Linked DNA regions of Homo sapiens: regions 1, 2, 4, 5, 6 and 7 are each linked to region 3. Evidence: fine-mapped expression QTL. A gene starts in region 3. Each other region holds a variant in brackets. All regions are shown on one strand. Distances are between the middles of the regions.

What was found. PIP is the estimated chance that this variant, and not a neighbour inherited with it, causes the effect. A credible set is the group of variants that fine-mapping cannot tell apart.
Region 1: its variant is the best candidate, but not a certain one, in a credible set for the expression of PPFIBP2 in esophagus mucosa (GTEx, PIP 0.51).
Region 2: its variant is the best candidate, but not a certain one, in a credible set for the expression of PPFIBP2 in neutrophils (CEDAR, PIP 0.81).
Region 4: its variant is the best candidate, but not a certain one, in a credible set for the expression of PPFIBP2 in aorta (GTEx, PIP 0.65).
Region 5: its variant is the best candidate, but not a certain one, in a credible set for the expression of PPFIBP2 in whole blood (INTERVAL, PIP 0.55).
Region 6: its variant is the best candidate, but not a certain one, in a credible set for the expression of PPFIBP2 in esophagus mucosa (GTEx, PIP 0.79).
Region 7: its variant is the best candidate, but not a certain one, in a credible set for the expression of PPFIBP2 in whole blood (TOPMed, PIP 0.61).

The regions. Positions count from the first base shown.
Region 1 is chr11:7,536,973-7,541,330 of GRCh38, forward strand. The region is part of intron 1 of PPFIBP2 (PPFIB scaffold protein 2); the gene reads left to right. LOC124902806 (leucine-rich repeat extensin-like protein 5) reads right to left here and starts at 1,567. Exons shown (of 4, transcript XM_047428005.1): 1 at 1,366-1,567. The coding sequence starts at 1,567. The variant G/C (reference allele first, on the strand shown) is at 1,995.
Region 2 is chr11:7,592,824-7,597,173 of GRCh38, forward strand. It overlaps PPFIBP2 (PPFIB scaffold protein 2), which reads left to right. Exons shown (of 24, transcript NM_003621.5): 4 at 309-401. It overlaps LOC105376535 (a long non-coding RNA gene), which reads right to left. Exons shown (of 4, transcript XR_007062579.1): 1 at 4,275-4,350. Among named protein-coding and RNA genes, the nearest start is that of CYB5R2, 79 kb to the right of the region's middle. The variant C/T (reference allele first, on the strand shown) is at 2,137.
Region 3 is chr11:7,511,688-7,516,045 of GRCh38, forward strand. PPFIBP2 (PPFIB scaffold protein 2) reads left to right here and starts at 2,312. Exons shown (of 24, transcript NM_003621.5): 1 at 2,312-2,434. It overlaps LOC124902806 (leucine-rich repeat extensin-like protein 5), which reads right to left. Exons shown (of 4, transcript XM_047428005.1): 2 at 2,431-2,918; 3 at 436-2,353. The coding sequence ends at 1,523. RefSeq lists an enhancer at 1,088-1,207 and a silencer at 1,878-2,407.
Region 4 is chr11:7,588,004-7,592,361 of GRCh38, forward strand. The region is part of intron 3 of PPFIBP2 (PPFIB scaffold protein 2); the gene reads left to right. LOC105376535 (a long non-coding RNA gene) reads right to left here. Exons shown (of 4, transcript XR_007062579.1): 2 at 2,103-2,391. Among named protein-coding and RNA genes, the nearest start is that of PPFIBP2, 76 kb to the left of the region's middle. The variant G/A (reference allele first, on the strand shown) is at 1,741.
Region 5 is chr11:7,550,928-7,555,285 of GRCh38, forward strand. The region is part of intron 2 of PPFIBP2 (PPFIB scaffold protein 2); the gene reads left to right. Among named protein-coding and RNA genes, the nearest start is that of PPFIBP2, 39 kb to the left of the region's middle. The variant A/G (reference allele first, on the strand shown) is at 2,335.
Region 6 is chr11:7,658,771-7,663,128 of GRCh38, forward strand. It overlaps a transcript of PPFIBP2 not described here. Among named protein-coding and RNA genes, the nearest start is that of CYB5R2, 13 kb to the right of the region's middle. The variant C/T (reference allele first, on the strand shown) is at 2,469.
Region 7 is chr11:7,573,930-7,578,287 of GRCh38, forward strand. All of the region lies in intron 3 of PPFIBP2 (PPFIB scaffold protein 2), which reads left to right. The region is part of intron 3 of LOC105376535 (a long non-coding RNA gene); the gene reads right to left. Among named protein-coding and RNA genes, the nearest start is that of PPFIBP2, 62 kb to the left of the region's middle. RefSeq lists enhancers at 1-766, 767-1,590, 4,314-4,358 and a silencer at 4,009-4,243. The variant G/C (reference allele first, on the strand shown) is at 2,345.

The DNA of each region.
Region 1 (4,358 bases), 25 kb after region 3:
GAAGGGACAGGCTGGCAGACCATGGTTATACTTGGGGAGGGGAATCCAGAGAGATCCTTGAGCTCCTTGAGAAGGATCCTTCCTTCAGGTCCCCGCCTCCTCCTCCTACGTTATTGCTGGGAAGAGTGGGTGGCTTCTAGGTGGCTCCCTCAGTGGTTGTCATTGCCTAATGGCTACAGGCCATGTTCTAGGGGTGACAGGTGAGAGACCCTTCTCAAGCTGGGGCAGCTTCATTCGCTGTCACTATTCCCCTGCTCTCTGGCCACTGAGCTACATCTTTGTAAAACAGGGCTGATAATTGTACTATATCCCTCACAGGACCCCCTTGAAGATTAAATGAGAAAACAAAAATGAGGACACTTTTTTTCCCCCCCACAGAGGCAGCAGCTTCTCAAAGGAGACAGGAAACCTGTGAACTCCCAGAGCAGGTGGTTTTTACACACAGGTGGATATTGCACAGGCTCGAAATAATTCACCATCATCTTGATCTATTGTGAATGGCTGTGTGGCCAGGGCAGGCAGCCAAATCTTAGAACGTGTGAGTTATCTGTTGCCTAGTCCTGGCTCTTCACATCTTAGCCTTGAAAGATAGACTCTCATTTACGTTTACTTCTTAGACCCACTCTTTCTGAGCGGTTCAGAAGGAAGGGAAAGAGCCTCCTCTCCGAAAGTTCTCTAAGTGGCTACGGTGGGCCCTATCCCCATGAGGGCACTGATATACTTGTCTTACAGTATTGAAGGGCACACTGATGGGGTTTGGTGATGCTCTGCTCCCTGGATGCTGTCTGGCTCCCCATCTCAATTCTTCCCAAAGGCACAGATCCCTGCCTCGCTTCCCTGCCCTCCCCGCTCCCCACTCCCCAATCCCTCTCCTTGTTGGAGTACCTGCACTGTTTGACCTTTGGCATCTCCCCAAACCATTCTCTGACAGACCTGGCATTAAGGCATGGCCTTGGTTGTGGCTGGTTTACCCTAATCAGTGCTTGAGTTGGGAAAAGGATCAGCTTGGAGAGAGAGGGGAACAAAGGCAGAATATCGAGAGCAGAAATAGGTGAGAAGAGTCAGAGGAGGGTGAAGCGAGCATTCAACAACATCAAGCAAATACGGTGAAGGAAACTTGACATCAGCTTCTTAGTGTTCCTGAAGCCCAGAAGGTCAGATGTGCTTTTGGGTGTGAGCCATCAGAACCTCAGACTCACACCCGTTTCCTGGCCAGACCCTGCGCTCCTCCTTGTGGGCTGGGCTCGTGGTGTCTCATTCTCATGTCTTTGGGGTGGTGTTTCTCTTAAAAAGCTTGCCATTTCCAGTAGGAGGAGGATGTCGCTGCTGAGACTGTGGGACAGCTAGGCTCAGAGGGAGTCTGACTTCGGGGCACCCGGAGGTGAGGTCTCAGTGCCTGTTGCTGCTCTTTGCCTTCTTTAGAGGACAGTGTGCAGCTTTCTGACTGAATGCCCTGCTGTTGTGATATGTTGCTGGAAATGCTGTTTGGGGTCATGGAGCCTTGCTTAAAGGGCTGTGGTTTGGTGAGAAGGGCTCGAGCTTTTTGGGAATGCTTAAGTGGAAGCATCTGGGCTTGGCTCTGCCAAAGGAGGCTGGTGGTGGAGCAGGGACATGTGACAGGACTTGGGCTGTGTCTTCAGTGGAAGGACCAGAAAGCAAAAGGAATCCTTCCAGTGGGTTCAGCAGAACTAGGCTCCAGCACAAATGTTCTTAAGGATATCCTGGACCTCGCCTGACAGGGAGTGGCTGGGAATACCCGGTGCATAAAACTCACTAACCTGGTATAGCGGGAAAAAGACGCTAAGCAAGAAATATTGCATTCATCCCCTGCCACCACCCAGCACTGCCAGCCTGTGTCTAGATTCAGGGCCCTTTCTGCAGTTCTGATAGATCTCAGCCCCCACTGGCCTGAGCTTAACTGACTAATCAGAACAGCCTGATCTAGGATGTTTAGGTTGAAACAAGGAACCTTGTATGCGCCAAATATTTTTGTT[G/C]CTGTAAAGCTTTGAACAAATGTTTGCTCTTAGGAGTTACTGATACTATGATTAGATGGGGACCAGTTAAGCATGCTTGTTCACCTTCAGTGGCATTCTTCTATTTTCTCCTCTTCAGCTTCTTTTAGGCTACTTAAGCTTCTATTCATTGACAAAACAAAACAAAGCTCTGCCTCTTCACTTTTATTAGACTCCGATATTCACTGAAGGCATTCAGCAACTCTGATAGCAACGTTCTCAGCAGCCTGGCCCCTCTGTCCTGCTATGGCTCCTCTTTGTCCTGACAGGATATCTCGCTGTGTTGGGCTCCTCTGTCCTGAGGGAAATTTAGCACAATGGCCTTGTCCCTCATTGTGATATAAAGCCAGTGTCTGTGGGCTCTGCCATTGCTCTGAGGAGCTGTCTTCGCAGGCCAGGTGTGCGGCTTCTCCTCTCCACTGTCAGATCTGATCCTGTGGGGGTCGTGACCTCTGGATGTTATAGGACCTGTGGAGGACAGGTACAGCTTGTGGCCCTGGGCAGAAGGTGGGGACAACTTGAACTGCTACGCTGAGAGCCTTGCCAGTGTAGACCGGTGACCTCTTTATTTCCTTTCATTTTCTCCCTTTTAGAATGGGAGCTGAGCTCCGGGGTCAGAGATATGGCCCTGCCTGTGAGGGCCTTACCACTTAGACAAAAGTGCCCTGGAGAAGTCTGTCCTGGGAGTGGCGAGGGGGACCCAGTCAGAAGTAGTCACTTCCATCTGGGGGATGGATGGGAGAGGATCCTTGGAGATAATGATGATGGAATTTGGCCTCAAAACAGGAGTGGGAGTTGAGCAGGTAGAACGAAGGACTTCAGCTAAAACACTGAAGAAGCCCCAAAAGCAGAAGCAAGCTGGGGACAATAGCTTGGCTGTTGCTCAGGGCAGGAGCCAGATATGGCCAGGAGAATTAAAACTGCTGGGGTTGTGAACTCCCACCCAGTTTTGAATCTCTACAGTCCCACAATGTGTCTCTTTTCACCTGAATTTTATAAATAGGTAAAATGAGGTTCATTAATGTTAAAGAGCTTGTCGGGGCACAGCTCATGAAGGAAAGAACTTGGATCTACATGCAGGTCTGACTACAGAACCCACTCTCCTAACTGCTCTGTGGGTCCTTAACTTCGTCTCCAGGTCCCCAAGCACCCCTTTGTTGCCTGAGTGATAGAAAGCTGGTGAAGCGTTGTGAATGCTGGGAAGCCTTGGTAAGATTTGTGAAATAGACCCACCCTCCTGGCAGCAGTGTGGAGGATGAGGGGTGTGGGGGGGCGGTGAGGCTGGAGGCAGAGAAACTGGTTAGGAAGCCAGTGCAGCCACTCTGATGGGAGATGACGGCAGGGCAGGTGAAGATGAGGGGACAGATCTGAAAGAGAGGGAGGAGATTTTACCGGATCTGGTGCCCAGTTGGATGTGGGTAACAAAAGGGAAGGTCCAAGGCTGACTCCCAGGTTTTTATCTTGGTGACCATGGGGGCATCACCAAGGTGGGATGGGAAGCATTTGGGTCCCACCCATTGTGAGAATATAGAGAGGGAGGTGGGTGCTCAGGATGGGAAGAGTTTGGGGCTGTTGTAGGGGAACATGCTGCAACCTCACTCCAGTCCCCACTATCTCCCAGGCTTTAGCTTCCCATGGACAATGAATTGGTTATTTTATCAATAAATCTGTAAACACTTATCCAGTGCTTACAGAATGGGGGACCCCACAGGGACCCAGACACGTGGCACAGTTTTCAGGGAGATGGCTGTGCACAGCTGCTGTCATTCCTTTCCTTCAGGATGAAAAAAGATGATCAGGGAGATCCCATTTAGGTAGTCAGAATTAAGTATGATTACCTGGAAGAGCTGGCTTGATGGGAATTTAGCAGGGACAGCTGTAGGCATGGGCATAAAAGCTGGAAAGCAGTGCAGACAGCCAATTAACTAACAATTAGGATCAGATGCCTTAGTGATAAGGCATCTGGTGAGGATGGGGCAGAGGTCTGCCAAAAGGTATGTATGGTAAAAGTTAAAGCCGTGACCAAGTAGGTTGAGTCCATATGATGATAGACCATGATTTCTACTGTGTGGCTGGTGGCCAGCCCCTGAGGCTGTCTAAGCAAAAGGGTGCCTGGTGCAGGGCTGTGTTTGCATTCCATCAGTTCCTCAACTTTGGTCAGAATCAGAATCACCCGAATGGCTAGATCAGCCATAAAGGTCAGGCTCTCTACTTACAGGAGGCTGGGCCTCTTGCTTGATTAGTTCTCAGGGTGGTTCTGATTAACAGCAAAGTTTGAGGACCACGAGATAGGTGAATCTTCAGTGCAGAGTGAATGGGGAGGGCTGTTCGGAGGAGGGTAACCGG
Region 2 (4,350 bases), 81 kb after region 3:
ACCCAGACCCAGCATGTCAAGTCAAGCACTGCTGGGCCTAGAGTTTCACAGAGGCCCTCCTGGCCAGGAGTGAGGTCATCCAGGAGGTGGTTGTGCCAACTTCCAGGGCGCACTTTTCAGTGGCATGTGATCTGGTTCTCCTCATGGTAGTTTTGAAATCTTGTGGTTTCCTGTTTTGATGATTGGTTTTGTACATATAATCAGTGAAACTATCCTCACAAATTACATGCATCCCTTATTTCATTTAGAAGTTGGTAAGATGTTTTTCCAACCTTTTAAGTGTATTCTTTTTTTTCTGTCCTCTTTAGTCCCAGGTAAACCACCACAGTGCTGCTAGTAATGAAACCTACCAGGAACGCTTGGCACGTCTAGAAGGGGATAAGGAGTCCCTCATATTGCAGGTGGGTACTTTTTGGTGAGAATCGGCTTATCCTGTTACCTCCTACTATGTAGCTTCCCCTAAGTGGAAGGGAAGCCCAAGAGATTTTCTCTGTTGGAATTTTTCTCCTTCCAATGCCTATGTTTTTAGAAAAGACTTTTCCTGAAATAAAACATTAAGTAACTGAGGGGACAATTTAACTCTAGACTTGGCTTAGGGGGGCTGTGAATTCAGTCATTCATTTATCATGCACTCCCAAGCACCCGCTTCTATACACTGGCAGCCCCATGACCAGGCTGATTTCCAGGTGCTAAGAATGAACAAAATGGGCCCTGTCCCCCAGAAGCTCCTGAGTCTTGCGAGGGAGGGGAGATATATCCTCATGCCACTAATAAAACAGAGCTGTGGGTGATACAGGCCTAAGGGTGAATGCTAATGAATCAAGTCCAAATTGTCTGAAGCTGGATCTAGACTGATCCCTTTAATGCCAAATCCCCTGGAGCTGGTAACAGGGGCTAAGCCTTTGATAGCTGTCTTGCTTGAAAGAGAGGAGCTCCAAAACCTTTTACGGAGAAAGATCATCAAGGGAGCTTTTTCGCTGTTGAAAGTTTGTGTGCCTTGGTAGGACATAGAGTTAGGTATTCTCATAAGAAGGCTGTTGAAGAAGCAGGCCCAGCACTTTGCTGTGTTAGCTCTTGAAAATATAAATTGATTAAGCAAGCATTTACTCAAGGTCTGGTATGCATCAGATATTAATTAGTGATTTGGAAAATATAAAGGCTAGTATCCTAATCCCAGCTCCTTAAAAGCTTAAAGGGTGATGAGTTAGACTGGTGGTAGAATGAAGGGAGGGGTTGAGCGGGGCCTGGAACCCACCCCAGGCTATGGGCTTTAGCTTGGAGCACTAAGGTTATGAGGTGGCAGTGTGTTTGTTTTTTCTCTTTTTACCTTACTTATTTTACTCTTTCATTGTATTTTATGAACATAAGGGTAATGAATGATTTTAAAAACCTTTAAAATTCTAAAAATGTGAAGAAGCAGGTTAACACTTCGGCCTTTTTTCCAGTGTTGTTGGTTTTTTTTCTTTTGCCTCTATTGTAAATAACTGAGCTCATACCAAATATATAGTTTTACATTCCAGTTTTGTATTTTTCTTCACTTCATTGATTTCTTCATTATAAAATAATTGGGTATCTACAACTTGTGAGATGCTGGTTTTAGATGCTGGGATAAAGCAGTGAAAGAAGCAGACTAAATTCCCATTCTTGTGGATCTTCCATTTGAAAGAGAGAGAGTGGGCCAGGTGCAGTGGCTCATGCCTGTAATCCCAGCACTTTGGGAGGCTGAGGCAGGTGAATCACCTGAGGTTAGGAGTTGGAGACCAGCTTGACCAGCATGGTGAAACCCTGTCTCTACTGAAAATACAAAAATAAGCCAGGCATGGTGATGGGTGCCTGTAATCCCAGCACTTTGGGAGGCTGAGGCAGGTGAATCACCTGAGGTTAGGAGTTGGAGACCAGCTTGACCAGCATGGTGAAACCCTGTCTCTACTGAAAATACAAAAATAAGCCAGGCATGGTGATGGGTGCCTGTAATCCCAGCTACTCGGAAGGCTGACGTAGGAGAATTGATTGAACCCAGGAGGTGGAGGTTGCAGTGAGCCAACATCGCATCACTGTGCTCCAGCCTGGGCAACAGAGCGAGACTCCATCTCAAAAAAAAAAAAAAAAAAAAAGAAAAAGGAGAGTGTGAATTGA[C/T]AATAAGCCAATACATTAACTATTTCAGGTGCTGGTAAGAACGCTGGAAAAAAGTAAAGCAGGATGAGGATTGTGTAGTAAAAGGAAGATCTCCTTTACAGGAGGAAGCCAAGGAGGGAGCCATGCAGATACCTGGAGAAGTGCATTCCAGGCAGAGCAGGCAGTCAGTCCAGCCCACACACTGAGGCAAGAGTGTGCTTGGGGTGTGGGAAGAACAGCAAGTGGCCATTGTGCCTGCAGTCTGTGCTCAAAAGGGTGGTGCGAGCTGCCTTTAGAAAGGTAGCAAGGGCCAGATTGAATAGCACATTGTAGCACAGATGTTTGAGGGATGTGTAATTTGAAACTCTTATCCCAATGACATGATTAATGAAAGAGTATCCAATGTAAGATTTTGCAGCAAACAGTATGAAATTGCAAACTTTTGAACCAGGACCCTTCATGATTGAAATAGCACATTCCTATTTACAGAGGATTACAATTTAATTTTTCAAAGTCCTGTGTAATAATGCTCCCTTTCACATTCATAGTTTTCTAAAATTCCAAATTCTTGAATAATCCCCATTTAAATAATCCTAACACAATTGGGAAGCTGCTTGCCAGTAAAGTCAGAAGTTGACCCTAGTAGTTTCTACTCTACTGGGAGCTTATGGGCAGACTCCAGGAGTGTCTGTTAAGTGATCACTGCTGTTCTGCAGTGGAGCTGGTTAGGCAGATTCTCAGCAGGGTAGAGCCTCTTGCTTAATGCACACAGCAGCTTAGCCAGACTGAATTAATTTAGAGTCCTTGGCCCAGAAAGTTTTCCTGGTTCTACTCATAGAACAAGGCAAATCACACATAACAAAATACTTTGTTTCTAGGATTAGTTAAAAACAAAACCAGAATCTCTTGTATCTTCATTATAATGTAACTCCTTAGGAAAAGGATTTTTATCCTTTTTTTTTTTTTTTAACTTCTGTATCCTCCAGTACCTAAAATTATGCCTAGCATCTATTAGGGTCTCAAAAATAGTTGTTTTTAGTGAACAAAGGTCACATTTTATGACCTTTATGTATTTTGTCTGGATTTCCTACATCCCTTCATTTGTAATACTTAGAATCAGCGTTGAGGTTCAGAAAGCCCCTGGAGCTGAACAATTAGCTATAGAATGCTAGAGATCCTATGATTCCTTGAGTATCACCAACACATGGCCTCAAGGCATGGTATAGACCATAGAAATGTTTAACCCTCATAATAAGATTAACCAGAAAACATCCTTCACAAACAGAAACTCTGGATTCCAGTGAGCAAAGCCCACCCCCAGAGTCCTGCCCTTTTGAAAGTAGAGTTAGTTCAGGATGGCTGAGAGTGTTGGGCCACAGGGATTAATAAACACCCACCCACAAAGGTTTGCGTGTAAGGTGGACCAAGTTGATAGAAAGAGCCCGTTCTTGTTTTTTTTTTTTTTTTTAACATTTTTTTTGGTTAAAAGTGGAATGTTAACCATGTGTCAACTCCAGGAATATGTTTCAATAATTCATTAATCATTTGGGAAAATAAAAATGGAGATCTTAAAGTAGGCATATTAATTTAGATTAGTTCCTTTTTAAACAGGCGCTTTATAATTCAGAAAGTTTATCTAAACACTCATAAATGAATTCACATCAACTCATGCACCATCTATTATTCCATTTCAGACTGAGAAATAATTCTGGATAATCTATATGTAAATGGCAACAACTCTAACCAAAAAGGTCTAAAGGATCTCAGTTTATCAACTGCTAATTTCTTCACTTTGGGGAGGACACTCATTCTCTCTCTTCTTGCTTTGAACCATCTCTTAATAAAGAAAAAGGATCCTGGGGCCGTTTGCTAATAGAGAAGGCTATGAAAACCATTGTTAATATATAGTTAGTGCATAATTTGAATGACTTCCTGTAAATGAGTTTTTACTAATTAATATTTTTAATAGGGATTCTCAGCGTTCTTCAGAAAGATGACTTTTTTTCTGCCACCGTATGTGTAATGTGGCTTCTCTATATTTATGACTTAGAGTCATGTTTTGGCCTGTGAAGCACAATAACCTTTCTGGAGCCAAGTTTTGTCAGTGCTAATACATGCCCTTTACAGCCCACATTCCTTAATTGCATCAAAACACTCACCTGATAGGTGAGCAGTCCTCACACCCTTATGAGAGAGGTAAGGTCATTGGTTAGTTTCCATGAAGTTTGGACCGCT
Region 3 (4,358 bases):
GCTGTTTTCCTGTCTTTGCCAAGCCCAGGCTGGGACCATAGGCAGTGAAGAGAAAATGTTTTTTTCCATAGCATTTGAGTAGATATTTGGCAGAAGGGAATTACTCAACCCATGGATACAGTGTAATTACCCACAGTTCTAACAGAATGGTACAGAGAGGCCAAATCCTTTGTGGAATGAGACAGGTATGAATAAATAAATGTGATATTACCTGCCCTATTACCTACCTATTTCACAGATAGAAGGAATGTGGGCTGCCTCACAGAGGATAGTGGGGTAGATTTATCAATAGGAGTGAGTCCTGCAACCATAGTTCCTTTGGAGGCACAGAGGGGAGGTTGCCTGAAATGTGCTGTCTAGATTCCACCTGGGATATGATTTGATTGACAGCTCTGCAGGGCACATCTGCCCCAAACAACTCACCTTGGTACCTACCTTAAATCCCTGCAGCTCGAATCACTCTTTTAGGTCAAGACATTTTCTCCAGGAAGCCCCTGTTAAGGGACCACTTTGCTTCTTGTGAGCCAGCGCAGGTCAGTATGCAGGCCTGGGAATGGGGTTTCTTTCAGGTGAACGTTTTAGCTCTGGGGTCTTGTTGGATTTAAGTGAAGACTGACATCGACATGGCCTACATCAGTGGTTCTTAAACTTTGTTGCACATAAGAATCACCTGCGGAGTTTTAACAGTCCTCATGCCGTGGCCATATCCCCAAGACCATTAAATCAGAACCTCTGGGGATGGATCGAGATATCAGTATTTTTAAAGTTCCTTCCCGCAAGTTGGTTCCAAAGTGCAAAGAAGCTCCAGAGCCGGTGACTTAGAACATTTAAAAAGGTAACTGTATCAATTTAAGAACAGGCTAGCAGTTTCTGGGGGCGGAGGTAAGGGGAGTGGCTCCGCTAGGGCAATAAAGGGTGGGATTCGGAAACAGCCATGACCTTGTGTGAACTGTGGCAGCCTGCGTCTACAAAAGTCGCTCTGCTGCTATTTTAAGGAAGTGAAAGAGAACTGAAGGGTGTCCTGTTGTAACACAACTCTTGCGGGCCCCAGCCTTCCCCTGCTGGCTGTGCTTTGGTCTGCTGCTGGCCAGGTTCCCGCAGTGACCACACGTCTCATATTTGCCAGGGTGGGTTAGGTTCTGTTCACATGTAAAATTCTCCTGGGCCTACTGGTCATTTCAGACCGCGAGGGTAAATTTGGTTTGAAAAAGTTGTGTCCTGTGGAGTTTGTCGACACTCCAGCCTGTAGAGAACTAAAGGCTAGGGCTGTGGTGACTCCTGCCAGAGCTGGGGACTATGCCGAGTCCCTGGTGTCGCTGCCATCTGAGGCCTACAGGGATTTTAAACAGCTTAACAGCAGCCAGTCCTTGGAGGCCTGGGCAGGGCCACAACATAGCAGTACAACCAAAACGGGTTCAGGCCACACGCTGGAGGTAGGGGCTGGACCAGATCTCCAGCTTCAGTCCTCCCCAGTTCGAGAACCCATTCCTGTGGTCAGACATTGCCAACGCTTTTCTTGGACCTAAGGTCCCAGACCTTGGCGCTGGGCACAGGGAAATGCTTCCTGACCTCGGCTCTTCATAAGACAGAACTTTTGTTTGGTGCCAACCACTAGAGGGACCTCCACCCCAGGTTGCGAGTGCAGCGCGGCGGGACCTGGGATGATTCGGGGGCTTTCCGACCTGCTTAGGGAGGGCGGCTCAGAGACAACCTCAATTTTGCCTGGATTGCACGCGGGCCGAGGAAGTCGGGATGCTCCGAAGGGTTTCTGCTCTGGGAGTGCCTCTAATGTGGGTTTTCTATGCTTTCTCTCTTCGCAATTCTCGACACCGTTTCCTTCTTCCTCGCTTTCATTCCCTGTGACCGGAGAACGGCGCTGAAGGACTGGAGAAGCCCAGGAGACTGGGAGCCGGAGCGCCGGGTACCCACCCGGGCCTCCCCGCAACCGGAGCTGTGCGGAGGAGGAGGCGCGGCGAACGGGGCGGGGCTCCCGGAAGGGGGCGCGGTCCGCCGAGAGAGGCGGGGCTGGGGCCCGGACGCGCGGCCCAGGGGGTGGGGACGAGGCAGGTTCGAAGGGGCGGGGCTGACCAGGCCGGTCCCCCGGGAACAGGAACCCTGGTGGACGGGTCCCAGCAGGCTTCTTCGGTGCCCGAGAGGGAGCGGGTGCCCAAGGGGGTGGTCCCTGTGGCAGGTCCCGGGGTGGGGGCGCGGCGCTCCGGGAAGAGCCTTCCGCAGGTCCCCGCCCCGTCACGTGGGCGCCGGCCCCGGCCGCTGCGGTCGGTCCGCTGGTTGGTCGGGCGCTTGGTCCGGCAGTTGGTCGGTGGGCCAGTGGCCCGTCGCTCGCTTCTGGGCTCTCATGTTTGAAGGTGGGAGGGACACGGGAGCGGCCCGCACACCTGAGCCGCCCGGAGAGGAGCCTCGGCCCCGTACCCAGGTCAGTGGGCTCTCCCCACACCCCGGGCTTGCCGCGCGGTCGGGGTTGGGATCCCCGTCGGGAGCATTACCTAGGGAGTGGAGCGCCCCCAGAGCTACGAACCACGGGGACGTGTGGGTCAGTGTCTCTGTGAGCCCCGGAGCGTGTCCCAGGCTCGAGGACGGGGACCCTTCTCCAACTCCACTGGCCAGAAGCCTGGGAGGAGGGCAGAACTCCTGTGGGTTGGCTGCGAATCTCCACCCAACCCTGCCTGGGATCCGCGGACAGTCCGCACTCCTGCAGGTGCCAGCGTGGCCCTGGAGATGCGCAGGGAGGTGGGGTCCCTGAGTTCTGTGCGGCGCGTCCCAGCCCTGCTCAGCCCGGGGAGCAGCGGCGTGGACTAGGGAGCCTAAGGAGGTTGCGGAAGCTTTAGGTCTGTCAGCCCAGGCAATTCTCTGGTGGACACAGCGTGTGTCTAGATGCAGGGCCTCGGCTAAAGCCAGTTCTGTAGTGTAAGTGCAAAAATACAGCACACTTTTTAAAATCTAAAGCCGCCGCGTCCCAGTAGACTGCAGGATGGGGACGGTCCTATTTAAAAGTGGGCTCCCTCCTCACCTCATCACATCAGATTCCAGACCCGCAGTTTTTCCTCGGATGAAAATAAGATTATGTAACAAGAGAACAGAACTTCCAGCGTTTGGATAGGATTAAGACAGGCATTCTTGCCAGTGTTTAATCTTCTTAAAAAACGAATCTAATTATATTTTTACTTTTAGAGCAGCCAGATATTTGGTATAGATCCGTGTCCCTTTTCTATATTTTGGTCTACTTCCTGTCTTTCTCTTCGTCTCTCTCCTTTCTCAACCCCTCCTTAATTGATTGTAATACAAATCTGAAGTGTTTTCAAATTTGTAGTGTATTATGTGAAGTTAAATGGTCAACTACAGAAAAGTAGTTGGTTTTCGACATAATTCATCTTCAGCATATTCAGTCTTTCATTATTATAGGTGTATGGAAAGCTGTAAGTGTTATCTAATTTAGAAATTATTTCTCTTTGGCTTAAGAGAGGCAACCCATTTGTACTTTGCTTAAATTCATAGCTAAATAAATTTGAAGTGGGAGATGGGGATGATTGATGAGGTTTTCACTGATTGCATTTATCCATGTTTTATTTAACATATTTCAATTATTAGTAATACTATTTTAAGATTTGGTGATGTGACAGTTGTTAGCTTATTGCTACTGGAGAGATAAGCTGCTTACCATGATGCCTTCTTTACTGGGTAGCTAAGGGAGATGCGCTTTGACTTTAAAAGAGTAAGTGGAATGAGATCAATGACATGAAGGCGGTAGGAACAAAGTTATGGGAATTCCTGTCTTTCATCTGAGCAGGGAAATCTGGGATAATTTTAAGAAAGGGTGATGTGATGGACCTCAAAGGATCCCTCCTGGGGTTTTTGAGGCAGAGAAGGGTAGAGTGTGGCCTGGGCTGTGACAACTGTGTGGGCAGGCAGGCATGGACTCACCATGAGAAGTGGCCAGTGGTCCAGCTTGGCTCTTATGTCAAGTGCTAGTCAGGAAAGCTGGTGACAAGGCTGGAAAATAGTCCCAGCTGTCCAGTACAGAAGTCTGGACTTGGTCTGAAGGCACAGCAGGGGACTGACTGATGGTTCTGTGAACTTCTCAAAGTCAAAGACCTTGGTCCTTGACCCTCCCAATTCCTAGCCTGATACAGAGAAAATCCAGTAAATATTTGTGGAGTGCATGGTCTGACAACACTGTAGAGCAGAGCTTCTCAAAGTTGAGAATCCTGTGGGGATCTTGTTCAAATGCAAATTATGATTCCATAGGTCAGGGGTGGGACTTGACATTCTGTGTTTCTAACAGATTCCCAGGAGCTTGCTGATCATTTCCCTATGTGTAGCAAGGATTTAGAGTAGCAGTT
Region 4 (4,358 bases), 76 kb after region 3:
GTTCGCCACAATTCATGGTGAAGTTTCTTTTTTGGACCTGACATATCCCCTGAAAAATCTCATCCCTAAAATGCAATGTTCTCCAAGGTGCAGAAATCTTGATTTCTTTGAGTATGCCAGCAACCAGCTCTCTGTGCATGAGGAACTTATCAAGAGTAAATTTCTTACTCAGTGACCAAGGGGAGGGATGGGAGAGGTAGGGACAGGACCTGGTTTAGGTTAGGCTAGTATCATTGTACGGTCCAAACTGCCCCTTATGTGGGGACTTAACTATCCCTGCTGGAATCTTGCTGGTCAGTCAGTCCTCTCCCTCCTGGCTACTCACAGTTCTCTCTCTGTCCTCTCCCTGCTGAGGCTGATTGACTATCATGATCAACTCCAGGATCCCAACCATAGAATACCCTGCACAGCTGATACATTTTCCTGAGGCCCCTCTCAGTTAGGGATGGCTTAGAAAATACCCACACCTTAGGCTGTTAATTGCTCAAGCTGCACATTAGGCTTGCCCAGCCACGGCAGTGGTAGCAGTTTGGGTCTTACAGAAACAGACCCTAGGATAACCTGTAAGAATCAAGGAGGTGTGTTGTCACTGTTTCTGAAGACACTCTGGAATATTACTCCCAAGGCCTAGGGAAGACCTTGATATGACAACTCTGTGCTGTGTTTTATATTTGCCTCCGCGAGGTCTGAATTTTAGAGGATGAATTCCTTGTGTCCAAGACTTTTTTCAGCCTCTTGAGAGCAACACTTGATAGACACAAAGGTGGCTTGGCTTCAATGATCTTGACTAAGGGTGCTGAGTTCTTAAAAATATCCATTCGAGAAGCCCTTGTCTTGATTCAGTTCCGTGATATAGGAGAGGTAGTATGTTTCACTGTGGCATTCTTTAGTCAAAATTGAAGAGGATGTGGAAATGTCTGGAGTTAACAGTTCTCCACAGGGCACACAGATCACATGGTTCTCACTATATTTTTAGGTAACTAACCTGAATTACAGTATCAGAAATAGCTCTGACCATTTGAATGAATGGTCTGAAAATTTGAATGAGAAGATTGACTTTTCCCTGTCACATTTGTAGCAATAACCATCAGAACAGAGGGGGAGGAAGTTTGATCAAATATATGTAACACAGCTTACCATTGGCAGGTCTAGCCTAGTGGCTAATGTCATTGGTTGAGTAAAAATTAGCTCTTTCTTATATTCATCTGTGGATTGAGCATCCTTAACAAGTATAACGGGGGTGGATGATACTCTCCTTTATAGTCACTTGCCATCCCACAGTGGGGAACAATAGAAAATTAGCATGTAGGCCAGGCACGGTGGCTCATGCCTGTAATCTCAGCACTTTGGGAGGCCAAGGTGGGCAGATCACAAGGTCAAGAGATTGAGACTATCCTGGCCAACGTGGTGAAACCCCATCTCTACCAAAAATACAAAAAATTAGCTGGGCATGGTGGTGCATGCCTGTAGACCCAGCTACTCAAGAGGCTGAGGCAGGAGGATCGCTTGAACCCAGGAGGCAGAGGTTGCAGTGAGCCTAGATCGCACCACTGCACTCCAGCCTGGTGACAGAACAAGACTCTGTCTCAAAAAGAACAACCCCCTCCCAAAAAAAAAAAAACCTCAGAAAATTAGCACGTAGCATCCTTCAGAATTTGATTGGACTTTCTTCTCTGTGAAATGTGGGCATGGTTTTTGCAACCTGACTTCATGCGTGGAGAGCTGGGCAACTGCTCTATC[G/A]CTGACTTACCTAATCAGGAACATGGACAAGACTTTTCAGAGACACCTCAAACCTGGAATCATGCAGGGATCCACTATCCATCCAAGCCTTCTATTTGCAATTCCACTATTAAAGAAGCAGGTATACTTGTTGACCAAGCAAGCTGTCTTTAAAGTAGAGCAAAACAGAGATGTGTCCTAACTCAGTCTTTTAAAATATTTTTCTCAATAAATTGGAATCCCATTTTGATAACCACAAAGCTTATTATGCCTTGATGATGTAGTCATTTTATAATGCAAGAATGATACCAGAACGTGATTGAACCTGTTGCCAGGTTATAAGAATACAGAATATACAGATTCACCCAAAGGCAAATCCTTACCTTAGGCTGATGAGTATTAGCATTCAGCAAGACAATCCTCTTCTTGGCCCTGTTCTCAGATGCTTTCCAAGTTTTTCTCCAGGCAGAGGTGGCATTTGATCCTGGCCTATGCCCTTCTGAAGAACGCAGTTTTTTTTAACATCCTAGTCCTATATAGATCATGAAAACACATGGCTCTGACTTCATCAAAAGCAAAGGATAGTGATACTGTGGGTTTCCATCTGGAACATTATCTTTCACTGCTGTTTACCTTTAAAAAGCTTGCTGGAGAACGGTGATTTTGAAGGACCTGTAGAAGAGGAAGATGCACTGTTCCTCTAGAACAGTGATTGGGGTGGGGGAGGGACCTGTCTGCCATGCACACCACTGCTGTATGGACCAGTATGCCTGCTAGGAAAGGAGTTGGCTCCTCGAATCTGTTATAGGAGGGGCAAATATGAGGAACCACTGTTCTAGGTCCTCTAACAGTGCTTCTAGATTTTCAAATATATTTTAATTACTCAATAGAAACATTTTGTAAGAAACTCAAACATTATGTCAAAGTGCTCTGAACAGTGCCTGGCACATGTTGAGCACAAGGTGCTTGCTGTGTATTTACAGCACTGTGCCTGGACCATATTATATTAGTCTCCATGGAATTGCTTTCACCTTTGGCCCATATTGTCCACTAGCCTCTGAACTATTCTGAGAACATCACACAAAAGTAATGAGTTCTACTGGGCTCTGTTTACTATAAGGGTGTCATGGATATTGCTGATCCCATCACACAAAATCTGTCTATGAAAACGTGAAGTTTCTCCCTTGCTCCGGAATAATTATGCTTCTCCTAGGCAATTGATTTGATTTTACCATACTGATCTGCGGATCCTGTTAACTGATTGTGCCTCTCTTTTTTTACTGGCTGCTAGCGTGGATCTAGATTTTTGATCCCCCTTCTAGCATGTGCTATAGAATCTAGGTCATACATTTTATTAACTGAATTTATGATTTCAACTTTCTTACTCTTTTTTTTGTCAACTAGTAAAAATAGTTACCTCTCTGGGTGATTGTATGGGTAGACCTTTTATTATAATGAAGAATATACTGCACACCATTTGAATAAGGCATAGTTGGTACAGTGGCTTGCTGGAGTCTCTGGAAGAAGTCTTGCCTTTGGTCTTCTCTCCTTCATTTCCTGCCAGAGAATGGGCGGCTGCCAGTGCTAGGTGGCTCCGTGTCCATGTGGACTTCGGCACTGGGGTTCTACCTGCAGAGCTTCACTTGGACACCTGGGTCCTGTTTAATTCTCTGTCCACTGGAAATCACCATCATGTGAGTTCTTTGACAGAGAAGAAGTTGACCTGCTATTAAGAATTATTCTCCTACCTTTTCTTCTCTGGTTCTGAGAAAATATAGATTATAATATATTCTTGGATTCTAGTCAGAGAATTTGATCATGTGAGAACCGGAATATTAATTTAACAACAATAAACTGCCATTAACAAAGAAGTCAGTTGTGATTGTTAAGGTTCTTTGTCTGTGGCATGAAAGAGCTTCCATAACAATGAACAAGACATAGGCTCCAGAGGGGCTGGAGCAGAAGACAGTGGTGTGGCAGCAGGTGCTGCCTGGCACAGCTGGCCTGGGGAGTGGCCCCTGGGCCTGTCCTCTGGCTGCACCTTCAACAAACAATCAATGAATCTTTCACTAGTGCGCATCCAGGGTTTGAATGCGGTATGCTTGGTCCACATTTCTGTTCTAGGACTGGGCATGGCTCTGTTGCCTCCCTCACCTATGCAGTGCATTGGGAAGGGGTGGGATGAGGGGAGGAAGGAGGTGCCTTTTCTCATGGAGGGTGGTGGGAGAGCCCATGCTAAAAGTTGAAATGTGGGGAAATGGCCTAGGACAAGGTGGCCCAACTCTGGGTCTCTCACATCTGCCTCTTTGCACAATTAAGACTTTCCTCTAGGGTGGTAGACACCTCCCTCGTGAATATTGAAGTGCTGATTTCACTGGACCAGCTCAGATTGTATAATACTCAGTTCCACATTTAGCAATCAGATCTACTTTTTCAAACTGCCAAGCCTCTGGGTGGCCTATTGCAGACCAGTCTGATTTCAGTCTTCCATTTGCATGGAGGAAGGAGGTGTTGGGGCCAGCTTGGTGACATTAGCTCCTTCTCTCCTGTCTGCCCACAACCAGGTCAGACACACCCAAGAAAGTGACACCTCCTTTCTCTGCTTGGGACATTTGTAAGATTCTGCCTCTCCTCTGACA
Region 5 (4,358 bases), 39 kb after region 3:
CTTTAGGACTCAGACTGGCTTCCCTGCTCCTCAGTTTGCAGACGGCCTATTGTGGGACCTTGTGGTCGTGTGAGTTAATAGTACTTAATAAACTCCCCTTTATATCTATATCTATAGATATAGATATCTATAGATATCTATCTCCTATTAGTTCTGTCCCTCTGGAATACAGATGTCCTGTTCTAGGTTAGGGTCTCTGATGCCTTATTGAGGAGAAAGAGTCAAGAAAGTGGATTTCCTAGCAATCCTTTTAGAGATACTGACCTGTGAGCTCCTCGGGGTCTCACGTGCATTGGGATAATAGCTACAGGATCATTCCCTGAGAATGCCTGAGGCAGTCATCACTTCAGAGCCTTCAGCCAAAGAGCAAAGGGGAGACTGAGCGAGTCCCTGGCAGACCTCTTTGATGGTTGTCAGGGAGGGATGAAAATACTATCTTTTCTCTACGTATTATCTCTGCTGCTTTGTCAAAGGTCATTTGATTATATTTTTGTGATATATATTCAGGTCTATTTCTGAACTCTGTATTCTGTTTCATGGATTTATTTTTTCTTTCACCAATACCACACTGTGTTGATTACTGTAGCTTTAGTAAGTCTTGAAGTTGGGTACTGTCAGTCCTCCAACTTTGTTCTTCAGTGTTGTGTTGGCTACCTTTTGCCTCTTCGTATAAAATTTAGAGTCAGTTTTTTGATCACAAAGTAACTTTCTGGGATTTTGATTGCAATTGCATTTAACTTAGATCATGTTGGGAAGAACTGACACTTTCACAATATTGAATTTTTGAGAGATGAATCAGACTTCTAAAGAAAAGTAGCCTTGTGTGGGGTCAGTACCTCTTTCTGACTCCTGATTTCTCCATACAGGCATTCCTGAAATGACAGAGCCTCTGGCAAAATTCATTTTGTCTCTGAGAGACATTATGTGGCTGGATCCTTAAGGCCTTGCCTTGACCCAGGATCTGCAGTTGAGAATCTGGGATGTGTGTGGAGAGAGGGGCCCTAAGTGTGGGTTGTGTGAAACCCAGGAGACCTAATCTTCTGATCTTCCAGTACAAACTGCTCTATCCTTCCATTTCCTTAGTCCTCCATCTTGGAAGGTTCTATCTAGAAGGGCTCCTGGGCTTTTCTGTCTGGAACAGGTATGAGAGTTTTGTAGAGAGAAGGCATTCTTTGCAAATTGGTTCTTTGCAGATTGGTAGGGAGGAATACCTGTAGCCAGACTACTTGTTTGAAAACCTAGCTCTACAACAAGTTACTTACATGGTCTGTGCCTCAGTTTCCTCATATTAGAAATGAGAATAGTAATACCCATCTTAGAGAGTTGCCTGTGTTGACATGCGTAAGGTGCTTAGAACAGTGCCTGGCACATAGTAAGCACTATAAAATGTTAGCTCTTGATAGATTAATGAGGGACTAAAAATAATCTTCATCATGTTGAATCTTTTCTGGGGACGGGGTAGTATTCTATTTATTAAAGCTCTTATTTCTCCCATCTGAGTTTTGTGGTTTTCATTGTATAAGGCTTGTGCATCCATTGCTGGATTTGCCCAGGGTCTGCAGATTTAATACGTGGTCTTCTGATTGCTCTCTGCATCTGTTCTTGCTCCCTTATAGACTGTTTCCCACAGAGCTGTAGAGTAAACCTGAAAATGTAAATTAAGTCATATCACTCCTCTCTCCAAAACTCCTCAATGGCTTCCCATCTCAGGATAAAGTTTAAAGCCCTTACCACGGCCAGCAAGGTCTTAGCATGGCTTGGCTTTCGTGGCCCTTTATGCATCCCTTTTACGTTCCCAGGGTGTATCTCACTTTAACCATGAGCTTGCCCCCCCCTCTCCTGGAATGCCCTCCTCCAGATCTAGGCTTATGCTGAAATGTTACCGTACCGGAAGGCCTTCCCTGACTGTGTCTATCATGCATTCCCACATAACTCTGTTCTTGTATCTTGTTTATACTTCTTTATAGCACTTATCACCTGACCTATCACATTCATATTTGCCTCTTTGTTTATTGTCTGCCTCCTGCACCAGCATGTAAGTTTCTTAAGGACAGAGGCTCTGCCACTGTATCTCCAGTGCCATAATTGGTGGTTTTAGGCATTTTAGTTAATAAGCATTTAATACATGCTAGATGTTTTTTTTTCATTTGCTTTTGTGACTAGGATCTCCTTTTCATTGGTTAGGAGGTATACATATAGGTTTCTGTATACATCTTCTATCTGGCTGCATACTGAACTTCATTTATTTTCTCTATTTTCACCCTTGTTTCACTGATTCTTTTGGAATAACAAATTATTATTATTTTTTTTGAAGACTAGTAGTTTGTATGTCCC[A/G]TGAACCATCCCTGAAGTAGTAACTGGCTCACACAGATATTTGACAGGAGCTATTTGACAGATTATTCAACACTGAGGTTACTAGTGAGTATCTGGAGGGCATGTTTTCTATGCTATTCTTGATAAAAAGAATGATCATTCTTTTGAATGCCTTGTTCAGGTTACTTTTTCTCAAGATTGCTGAGGACACTTTTCCTCATTTTTATGATGGCATTAGGATGGCTGAACCAAATTGGGCCAAAGAGGTTAAGAATTTTTGTGGTTATTAACATGGACTACAGAGTTGGACTGTAGGGGTTTGAATCCCAGCTCAGCCATTTAGTGCTGGCTGTGGGATCTTTGGACAAATTGCTTAATTCTTCTGAGCCTCAATTTACTTATCGATAAAATAGCAGTAATAATAGTACCTGTCTCATATTATTGTGAGGGTTGAATTAATGCAGATAAGGCACCTAGAAAGTGCTTAATTGATGTAAGTTATTTGTTTTATTGATATTAGTATTAAATTATTTTTACCCCCCAAGATCATAGTGCTGAGATTTGATTCCAGGGCCATCTGAGTCTCTTCCAGGCTCCTTTTATTCCTGGGCTGGTTTTTATGTTGATGCATGGGGCTGTCTGTAGGAGAAAAGAATTAACTGAGGGAAGGATACTTTTCTGCTCTTGCTCACAATCCCTAAGCCAGAGTGGTTTTGTTCTTGTCTCTCTTACGTTATTTCTTCTAAGCAAGGGTTCCTTTGCTTAAGGGTGGCACAGCTAAAGAAGTTTGAAAACTGGCACCACACCACAGATCTTGCAGAAATGACATTTTTGTGTGAACATTTAAATCTTCCTCTCTTTATTTATGTTCTCTTATTAATTTTAGATTGCATGATGTCAAGTAGTGCCACCACCACTGCCAAAACACAACTGCTTTTCCATCAAAGTACTCAAGTACCCAAAGAATGTATTTTCTCACAGTTACCACGTATTTCAACGGAAAAAACCTTTATGGGCTTCCTGGACCTCCCAAATAGTAACCACTTACACAGAAACAACACAGATTCCTACTAAAATGGATGTACTGTATTCAGTGATCACTAGTAATCATATACTATGTAACAAGGAATTGCCTCTTACTAATTACAGTAGGCTGGGTTACTGTTTACTTTCCAAAACTCCTTCTAAAAAGAGTGCACTTTGGGCATGTGATATCAATGTTTATGTAATTAAGCTTTTAGTGCAAAAAAAAGTCTGTCTCCTCCTGCATCAACTAAAACAGTGCAAACAGTGCGGGATGATTATCACTCCTGTAAACAATCAGACCAGGAGTACTCTGAGAGGACATCCTAATGCGCAAGTGGTAAATATGCCCCTCCAGAGCCACGGTGCGATGGCCTTTGTCTCAGGTGGTCAATGTTGGGAGGTGTGAGAGAGAGAAATTGGTTCTTGTAAATGCAAAAAGAAATGCCTTGTAAGCAGGACTATTAAATGAAACTCCTTGTAAAGTTGAATTCTTGAAATCTGAATGGCTGAATCCCAGGTGACTAGACTAGACTAGACTAGACTAGACTAGATTGGGTCTATACTAGATTGGGACCTCAGTATTTTATATCAGAAAGTTGGGAAAGGGTGGCTGTTAAAGACTCTAGGATCTTTGTCAATAATGACTTGGTTCTAATATGAAAGACCATTATTATAGTTTCCAGTAGGATGTTAACCTTTGATCTAGTCTTCCTCCTGATTAGTCCCTGTGATTCTGCTTGCAAATTCACTGTAATTGAATTACACTGTTGACAATTGAAATTGAACTCTATATTGCTTAATTACCTCCCTCTGGATGGCCTAGAGCAACTGCCACAGACACTAATTTTGCATGGAGCTTAATTTGTGAACTGACAGGTTCAGTGGCTACTTTGTCAGGCCACTTCTGGCAGGGGACCAGAGAGCCACGTGGTCAGGACACAGAAGGCCACTTACTCCTCTTGGCTCTGCATGAGGTTACTCATGCAGTTATGTACAAGCAGTACTCACTGAGGAGGAAT
Region 6 (4,358 bases), 150 kb after region 3:
AAAGTGTTCCTATTTCTCCACATCCTCTCCAGCACCTGTTGTTTCCTGACTTTTTAATGATTGCCATTCTAACTGGTGTGAGATGGTATCTCATTGTGGTTTTGATTTGCATTTCTCTGATGGCCAGTGATGATGAGCATTTTTTCATGTGTTTTTTGGCTGCATAAATGTCTTCTTTTGAGAAGTGTCTGTTCATGTCCTTTGCCCACTTTTTGATGGGGTTGTTTTTTTCTTGTAAATTTGTTGGAGTTCATTGTAGATTCTGGATATTAGCCCTTTGTCAGATGAGTAGGTTGCGAAAATTTTCTCCCATTTTGTAGGTTGCCTGTTCACTCTGATGGTAGTTTCCTTTTGCTGTGCAGAAGCTCTTTAGTTTAATTAGATCCCATTTGTCAATTTTGTCTTTTGTTGCCATTGCTTTTGGTGTTTTAGACATGAAGTCCTTGCCCATGCCTATGTCCTGAATGGTAATGCCTAGGTTTTCTTCTAGGGTTTTTATGGTTTTAGGTCTAACCTTTAAGTCTTTAATCCATCTTGAATTGATTTTTGTATAAGGTGTAAGGAAGGGATCCAGTTTCAGCTTTCTACATATGGCTAGCCAGTTTTCCCAGCACCATTTATTAAATAGGGAATCCTTTCCCCATTGCTTGTTTTTCTCAGGTTTGTCAAAGATCAGATAGTTGTAGATATGTGGCGTTATTTCTGAGGGCTCTGTTGTTCTGTTCCATTGATCTATATCTCTGTTTTGGTACCAGTACCATGCTGTTTTGGTTACTGTAGCCTTGTAGTATAGTTTGAAGTCAGGTAGTGTGATGCCTCCAGCTTTGTTCTTTTGGCTTAGGATTGACTTGGCAATGTGGGCTCTTTTTTGGTTCCATATGAACTTTAAAGTAGTTTTTTCCAATTCTGTGAAGAAAGGCATTGGTAGCTTGATGGGGATGGCATTGAATCTGTAAATTACCTTGGGCAGTATGGCCATTTTGACGATATTGATTCTTCCTACCCATGAGCATGGAATGTTCTTCCATTTGTTTGTATCCTCTTTTATTTCCTTGAGCAGTGGTTTGTAGTTCTCCTTGAAGAGGTCCTTCACATCCCTTGTAAGTTGGATTCCTAGGTATTTTATTCTCTTTGAAGCAATTGTGAATGGGAATTCACTCATGATTTGGCTCTCTGTTTGTCTGTTGTTGGTATATAAGAATGCTTGTGATTTTTGTACATTGATTTTGTATCCTGAGACTTTGCTGAAGTTGCTTATCAGCTGAAGGAGATTTTGGGCTGAGACAATGGGGTTTTCTAGATATACAATCATGTCATCTGCAAACAGGGACAATTTGACTTCCTCTTTTCCTAATTGAATACCTTTTATTTCCTTCTCCTGCCTAATTGCCCTGGCCAGAACTTCCAACACTGTGTTGAATAGGAGTGGTGAGAGAGGGCATCCCTGTCTTGTGCCCGTTTTCAAAGGGAATGCTTCCAGTTTTTGCCCATTCAGTATGATATTGGCTGTGGGTTTGTCATAGATAGCTCTTATTATTTTGAAATACGTCCCATCAATACCTAATTTATTGAGAGTTTTTAGCATGAAGGGTTGTTGAATTTTGTCAAAGGCTTTTTCTGCATCTATTGAGATAATCGTGGTTTTTGTCCTTGGCTCTGTTTATATGCTGGATTACATTTATTGATTTGCGTCTATTAAACCAGCCTTGCATCCCAGGGATGAAGCCCACTTGATCATGGTGAATAAGCTTTTTGATGTGCTGCTGGATTCGTTTTGCCAGTATTTTATTGAGGATTTTTGCATCAATGTTCATCAAGGATATTGGTCTAAAATTCTCTTTTTTTGTTGTGTCTCTGCCAGGTTTTGGTATCAGAATGATGCTGGCCTCATAAAATGAGTTAGGGAGGATTCCCTCTTTTTCTATTGATTGGAATAGTTTCAGAAGGAATGGTACCAGTTCCTCCTTGTACCTCTGGTAGAATTCGGCTGTGAATCCATCTGGTCCTGGACTCTTTTTGGTTGGTAAGCTATTGATTATTGCCACAATTTCAGATCCTGTTATTGGTGCATTCAGAGATTCAACTTCTTCCTGGTTTAGTGTTGGGAGAGTGTATGTGTCGAGGAATTTATCCATTTCTTCTAGATTTTCTAGTTTATTTGCGTAGAGGTGTTTGTAGTATGCTCTGATGGTAGTTTGTATTTCTGTGGGATCGGTGGTGATATCCCCTGTATCATTTTTTATTGTGTCTATTTGATTCTTCTCTCTTTTTTTCTTTATTAGTTTTGCTAGCAGTCTATCAATTTTGTTAATCCTTTCAAAAAACCAGCTCCTGGATTCATTAATTTTTTGAAGGGTTTTTTGTGTCTCTATTTCCTTCAGTTCTGCTCTGATTTTAGTTATTTCTTGCCTTCTGCTAGCTTTTGAATATGTTTGCTCTTGCTTTTCTAGTTCTTTTAATTGTGATGT[C/T]AGGGTGTCAATTTTGGATCTTTCCTGCTTTCTCTTGTGGGCATTTAGTGCTATAAATTTCCCTCTACACACTGCTTTGAATGTGTCCCAGAGATTCTGGTATGTTGTGTCTCTGTTCTCGTTGGTTTCAAAGAACATCTTTATTTCTGCCTTCATTTCGTTATGTTCCAAGTAGTCATTCAGGAGCAGGTTGTTCAGTTTCCATGCAGTCGGGTGGTTTTGAGTGAGATTCTTAATCCTGAGTTCTAGTTTGATTGCACTGTGGTCTGAGAGATAGTTTGTTATAATTTCTGTTCTTTTACATTTGCTGAGGAGAGCTTTACTTCCAACTATGTGGTCAATTTTGGAATAGGTGTGGTGTGGTGCTGAAAAATATGTATATTCTCTTGATTTGGGGTGGAGAGTTCTGTAGATGTCTATTAGGTCCACTTGGTGCAGAGCTGAGTTCAATTCCTGCGTATCCTTTGTTGACTTTGTCTCGTTTATCTGTCTAATGTTGACAGTGGGGTGTTAAAGTCTCCCATTATTAATGCGTGGGAGTCTAAGTCTCTTTGTAGGTCACTCAGGACTTGCTTTATGAATCTGGGTGCTCCTGTATTGGGTGCATATATATTTAGGATAGTTAGCTCCTCTTGTTGAATTGATCCCTTTACCATTATGTAATGGCCTTCTTTGTCTCTTTTGATCTTTGTTGGTTTAAAGTCTGTTTTATCAGAGACTAGGGTTGCAACCCCTGCCTTTTTTTGTTTTCCATTTGCTTGGTAGATCTTCCTCCATCCTTTTATTTTGAGCCTATGTGTGTCTCTGCACGTGAGATGGGTTTCCTGAATACAGCACACTGATGGGTCTTGACTCTTTATCCAGTTTGCCAGTCTGTGTCTTTTAATTGGAGCATTTAGTCCATTTACATTTAAAGTTAATATTGTTATGTGTGAATTTGATCCTGTCATTATGATGTTAGCTGGTTATTTTGCTCGTTAGTTGATGCAGTTTCTTCCTAGTCTTGATGGTCTTTACATTGTGGCATGATTTTGCAGCGACTGGTACCGGTTGTTCCTTTCCATGTTTAGCACTTCCTTCAGGAGCTCTTTTAGGGCAGGCCTAGTGGTGACAAAATCTCTCAGCATTTGCTTGTCTGTAAAGTGTTTTATTTCTCCTTCACTTATGAAGCTTAGTTTGGCTGGATGTGAAATTCTGGGTTGAAAATTCTTTTCTTTAAGAATGTTGAATATTGGCCCCCACTCTCTTCTGGCTTGTAGGGTTTCTGCTGAGAGATCCGCTGTTAGTCTGATGGGCTTCCCTTTGAGGGTAACCCGACCTTTCTCTCTGGCTGCCCTTAACATTTTTTCCTTCGTTTCAACTTTGGTGAATCTGACAATTATGTGTCTTGGAGTTGCTCTTCTCGAGGAGTATCTTTCTGGCGTTCTCTGTATTTCCTGAATCTGAACGTTGGCCTGCCTTGCTAGATTGGGGAAGTTCTCCTGGATAATATCCTGCAGAGTGTTCTCCAACTTGGTTCCATTCTCCCCATCACATTCAGGTCCACCAATCAGACATAGATTTGGTCTTTTCACATAGTCCCATATTTCTTGGAGGCTTTGTTCATTTCTTTTTATTCTTTTTTCTCTAAACTTCCCTTCTCGCTTCATTTCTTTTATTTCATCTTCCATCACTGATACCCTTTCTTCCAGTTGATCGCATCGGCTCCTGAGGCTTCTGCATTCTTCACGTAGTTCTCAAGCCTTGGTTTTCAGCTCCATCAGCTCCTTTAAGCACTTCTCTGTATTGGTTATTCTAGTTATACATTCTTCTAAATTTTTTTCAAAGTTTTCAACTTCTTTGCCTTTGGTTTGAATGTCCTCCCGTAGCTCAGAGTAATTTGATCGTCTG
Region 7 (4,358 bases), 62 kb after region 3:
GCTGCTGATTTCTGGTAGGCAGCAGGAGTAACACCTCAGGGGGCCTCAGCTCCTTTTTCAGCCATTCCCTCAAGTACTTGGAATTCCAGCCAGGTAGGTGGCAATCCTGGGGTTCTCTTCTAGACCCTAGGACAGGGGTGGAGCAAGCTACAGTGACTTTCCCCGGCAAACCTGACCACCCTGGCCTCTTAGCTGTGTTTTTACTCCCAGAATGCTCAGCCTCACAGTCTCCTGCCCTTTTCCCACAGCTGGCTGCTGCATGTTGCAGGCAGTAATGAATCTGTTTGTAGATGAGCAAAGTACTTCCAGGAAGGCCTTCGGGACTGTTAGGTCACTGTAGTGACCCGTATTTGTGTACCCTTTGTGCTTCCTGAGGACTTCTGTCTTCAGAGAGGGGTCCAGTGAGTCTGAGACACCACCTCACAGGAGCAGTATAATGGGAGCAGCAAGCCCAGGCCCCCGAGCTCCCAATAACAAGGGGAGCCTAGACCTTTGGGAGTAACTACCTCGGCCAATTAAAAGCTGGGCTTCTAGCCTTTTGGGAGTCATGGACTGTTCTGATAATCTGACAACTCTTTTTCAGATAAAGATTTATGAATACAAATAGTAGTACTTTCTATATATTTGACGAACATATTTAGGGGCTCATCTGATCCCTGGAATCCCATCTGTAAATCAAGTGAGGTGCCCTGGACAGGATGGACTTCTAGGGCAGTGGTGCAGCCATGGGTTTGCCTTGCCAGGCCAGTGTGATGAGGGAGCCACGACAGGGACCCAGCTGCCCCTGGGGGTGGGGTGAGTGAGCGAGGAGGTGCCTTAGCTTCTGAATCCATCCCATTTCACTCAGCCCTTCCCCTTTCCCTCCTGCCAACCTGCTCCTAGGTCTTTTGGGGTGTTAATTTGTGATTTTTGAGTTGAATTACAACGTAAGTAAAATGTACTTGGTGTTTAAGGAAAAACAAGGCTGAGATAAGACTTGCTACTTGAGAATGCCATAAAAATGTCAAGAATTTAGCTGCAGTTTATCTGGATTCTTCCCTCCCTTCCTCCCTTTTCTGTCCCTTTCTCTCCCCTACCCTGCACCCCCCACCTTTGTTCATCACACATTGAGTTGAGCTAACAGAGGAAATGGGCCCCGTCTTTTCCTTTTTGTGTCGAACATCTTTACCCTGGAGAAACGGACCTTCAAGTCTCTTTCCTTCACATAGAATTTTAGTCTTACTTTACCAGTCTTATCATTTGAGCCTTATTCTTTCATCCAAAAAATGTTTAAATTCGTACTGTGTGCTAAGAATTGTAGGCATGGAAGTAGGAGAAGTGAGTTGGAAATCAGACACACTTCTGACAGTCTGGTGCAATAGGAGTGGTCCAGTGTGACAAGGTCAGTGATGAAGTAGAGAGGGGAATTTAGGTGCTCAGGAAGGGATAGAAGAGGGACACCTGAGCCACAGCTCTATGTAAGCTGGGAGTGAGCAAGGCTGATGAGAGCAGCCACATTGGCCACCTTTCTCTTTTCTCTTTTCTCCTCTCTTGTACCAGAACCTAAGGAAGAGCACTGCACTCCTCCCAGGAGAGGGGAGAATTTTCCACCATCCTGTAGAGGCTGGAACCTTGCGCCACCTCTCCCTGTCCAGCTCCCAAATCAGCTTGTCTACCTCCTCTTCCTTGGAGTCCCAGATATACCTTTATTGCATACCATATGATAATTCTTAACCCAGGGCATGAAGTTTTTCATTTGCCTTGGATGCGGGGAAAATGTGTATTGACTGGATGAATTTCTTCATTTGACTTGTTCAGGCTTTTAGACAGAGAAAAACCAACCTACTGACCCCTGTACCTTTAGAGATGTTCTTCCTTGGCAACATCCTGCCATAGCACGGGCAGGGAACCTGGGCTGGGTGGGTCACACTGTGCTGTGGAGCAGGGCCAGAGGTGAGGAGCAAGGGGCTAGAGCTCAGCGCATGGGCAGCAAAGCCTGCTTTTCCTTTCTGGCCTCTGTCTGGGTGTGTCTCCAGGAATTTACTCCTCCCCTTATGCCAGCTGCTGGCTAGAGCTCTCCTCCTTGCCGCCTCTGTGATCTCTGTGGGCTGGCCCAGCCTGCCGGGGACTGTGCTGCCAGGCATTGTTTCTCCCCTTTTGGGCCCTGCTTCTGGCCCTGGTGGACATTGAAGCCATGCTGAGGGGCATGCGGCATGAGGGGCATGAAGGACTGCTCTTCAGACTGGGAGTTCCAGGAAACCCCGGAGGTGACCCCCAAGGGAACTGGGAAGGCCCAGGCAGTCACAAGCTGTGCATCTGCAAGTCCTTTGCCACAGCAGAGCTCGGGGCCTTGCGTGTAACCACA[G/C]TTCCCACCGTGTAACCACAGTTCCCACCGCACCCACATCAAAGGTCACTTTGATAATCAGCCATAGCCAAAGGCCACACATTAAGGGCTGGGGAAGGGAGAAAAGCTGTTTTTAGTGGGGAGCTCTCAAAGGAGATGGGAATAGGAGGAGGTGGGGGGTGGCATCTAGGGAGTGCTGGAGGGGCCACCTGGAGAGCCTGCATGTGACCTGCCCTGAAAGGAGGAAAACAGCTGCAGCTCCAGGTCTCCGCCAGCCTTTCCAAGGCCCCTGTCTACCCAGCACTGCTCCCTGAGTCTCATGGAAATGCACGTGAAGCAGCCTCAACCTTTCCACCTCCTTGGTTTGTAAAGCAGGTAGCCCAGAGTGGGGGACAGCCAGAGAGGCAGGACCCTCCAGCCCTGGCCCCTGTTCAGAATGTGGCCCCCAGGGTGCCCTGGCTGGTGGCCAACAGTCCAGGGCCAGACTCCCCTGAGTTTGCGGCAGTTGGTCTCTAATGGATGGTACCACCAGTGCCAAGGACAGCAAACGCTCTGTGCTGGGCCCGTCGCACAGCAGGACCAAGAACCCAGACTGGAGCTGCTTTTTTTTGGAAACAACAGGCTTTCCTCAGGGCACAGCCCGTCACTCGCCTGGAAAATGGGTGGGCGTGGGCTTCAGGGCGGGGGTCAGGCTGTGTGTGGGAACCAGTGAGCTCCTCCAAGAGCAGCACTTATTTTTAGTCTTCTCCCCAGTCCCAAATAAACTGAGAGCAGCTGGGAGCCCTGGGTAAATGCAGAGTGAAGCAGAGACAGGAAATCGGGGCTCTCAGTAATGAGTTCCAGCCACTCCAGAAGGGGGAAGCCAGACAAGGAATTTTCTTCAGGACTGTTTCCCTCTGGCAGGCTCCGGTATTATCACTGAGAATGGTCCCGTGTGTGTGTGCGTGTGTGTCATGTTTACAACTTCTGTCCAAGTCTTCTTTCTTTTTTCTCTACCTTTGTGTGACATTTGATTTCTCCGCAGGGCTCTGAATCCCAGTCCTGGTGCGTGTGCGTGCATGTATGTGCGTGTGTGTGTGTGTGTGTGTGTGTGTGTGTGTTTGTTGGGGTGGTCGGGGAGGACACTGAAGCAGCACGGTCTGCTCTGTGTCGCTGTGTGTCTGAAACTGTCTAGGGAGAGGCTGAAGGACGCAGGCCAGGGAAGTGGGGAAATTTGAACACAGCTTGGAGTTCTTGAGGGGGGAGGGGGCAGAGGCAAGGAAGAGGAGAGAACTGGTCTCCAGCCAGGAAAAGGGCTTTTTCCACCAAGGCATCTAACTGCTGACATGGGTGCCCAGCATGGATGGGGACATTGATGTTTACAAGCATTTCTCGTGGCTGAAGAGGGTAAGTGACTGGCTGCTTTGTCTGGGTCTCCGTGGAGATAAGTGAGGGGGAGACGCTTTGGGGTGTTTTGGGGTGTGTGTGCCTGTGTGTGGTAGGGGGAGGTATTGTCCAGCAAAGCCCTGCTGTGGCCAAGTTCTTCATGAGAATCTAATTATAGACACCAGGGAGAAAACAGTCAGCTGTCTTTGTTTCTCCACTGACATTCTAGTGAATGAGCCTCTGTACAGAAAGGCAAGAATGGAGTGAGGAAAGTTGGTTATTTTAACTTTGGCACCTAAACAGTCAGAGGCTCCAAACACCGTGACCAGAAGAATGTGCCCACCGCTTTTCAGTTTGAGGACACAGGGAGGAAGCTGCTGCCTTTTTAAATGCATTGGATTCGGAAGTTGTTTAACTCGTTCTCACTCTGATGTTATCCGGTGGAGCACACATCTGCTGTCAGCAGAATGAGCTTCTGCATTTCCGGAGGAAAGCTTTCAGGGAGTTCTCTTTGAATGCTCTGAAGCTGAGGGTTTATGTTGCAAGTTGTTCATGCCCTTTCTTTAGAGGATAAACCTGAGTGTGTGGTATGAGCAAGGAATGAACGGACGTTGGGGGCTGGAGTAGCATCATACTCCTAGAATTCAGGCTGTTTCCTCTTTTGTGGCTG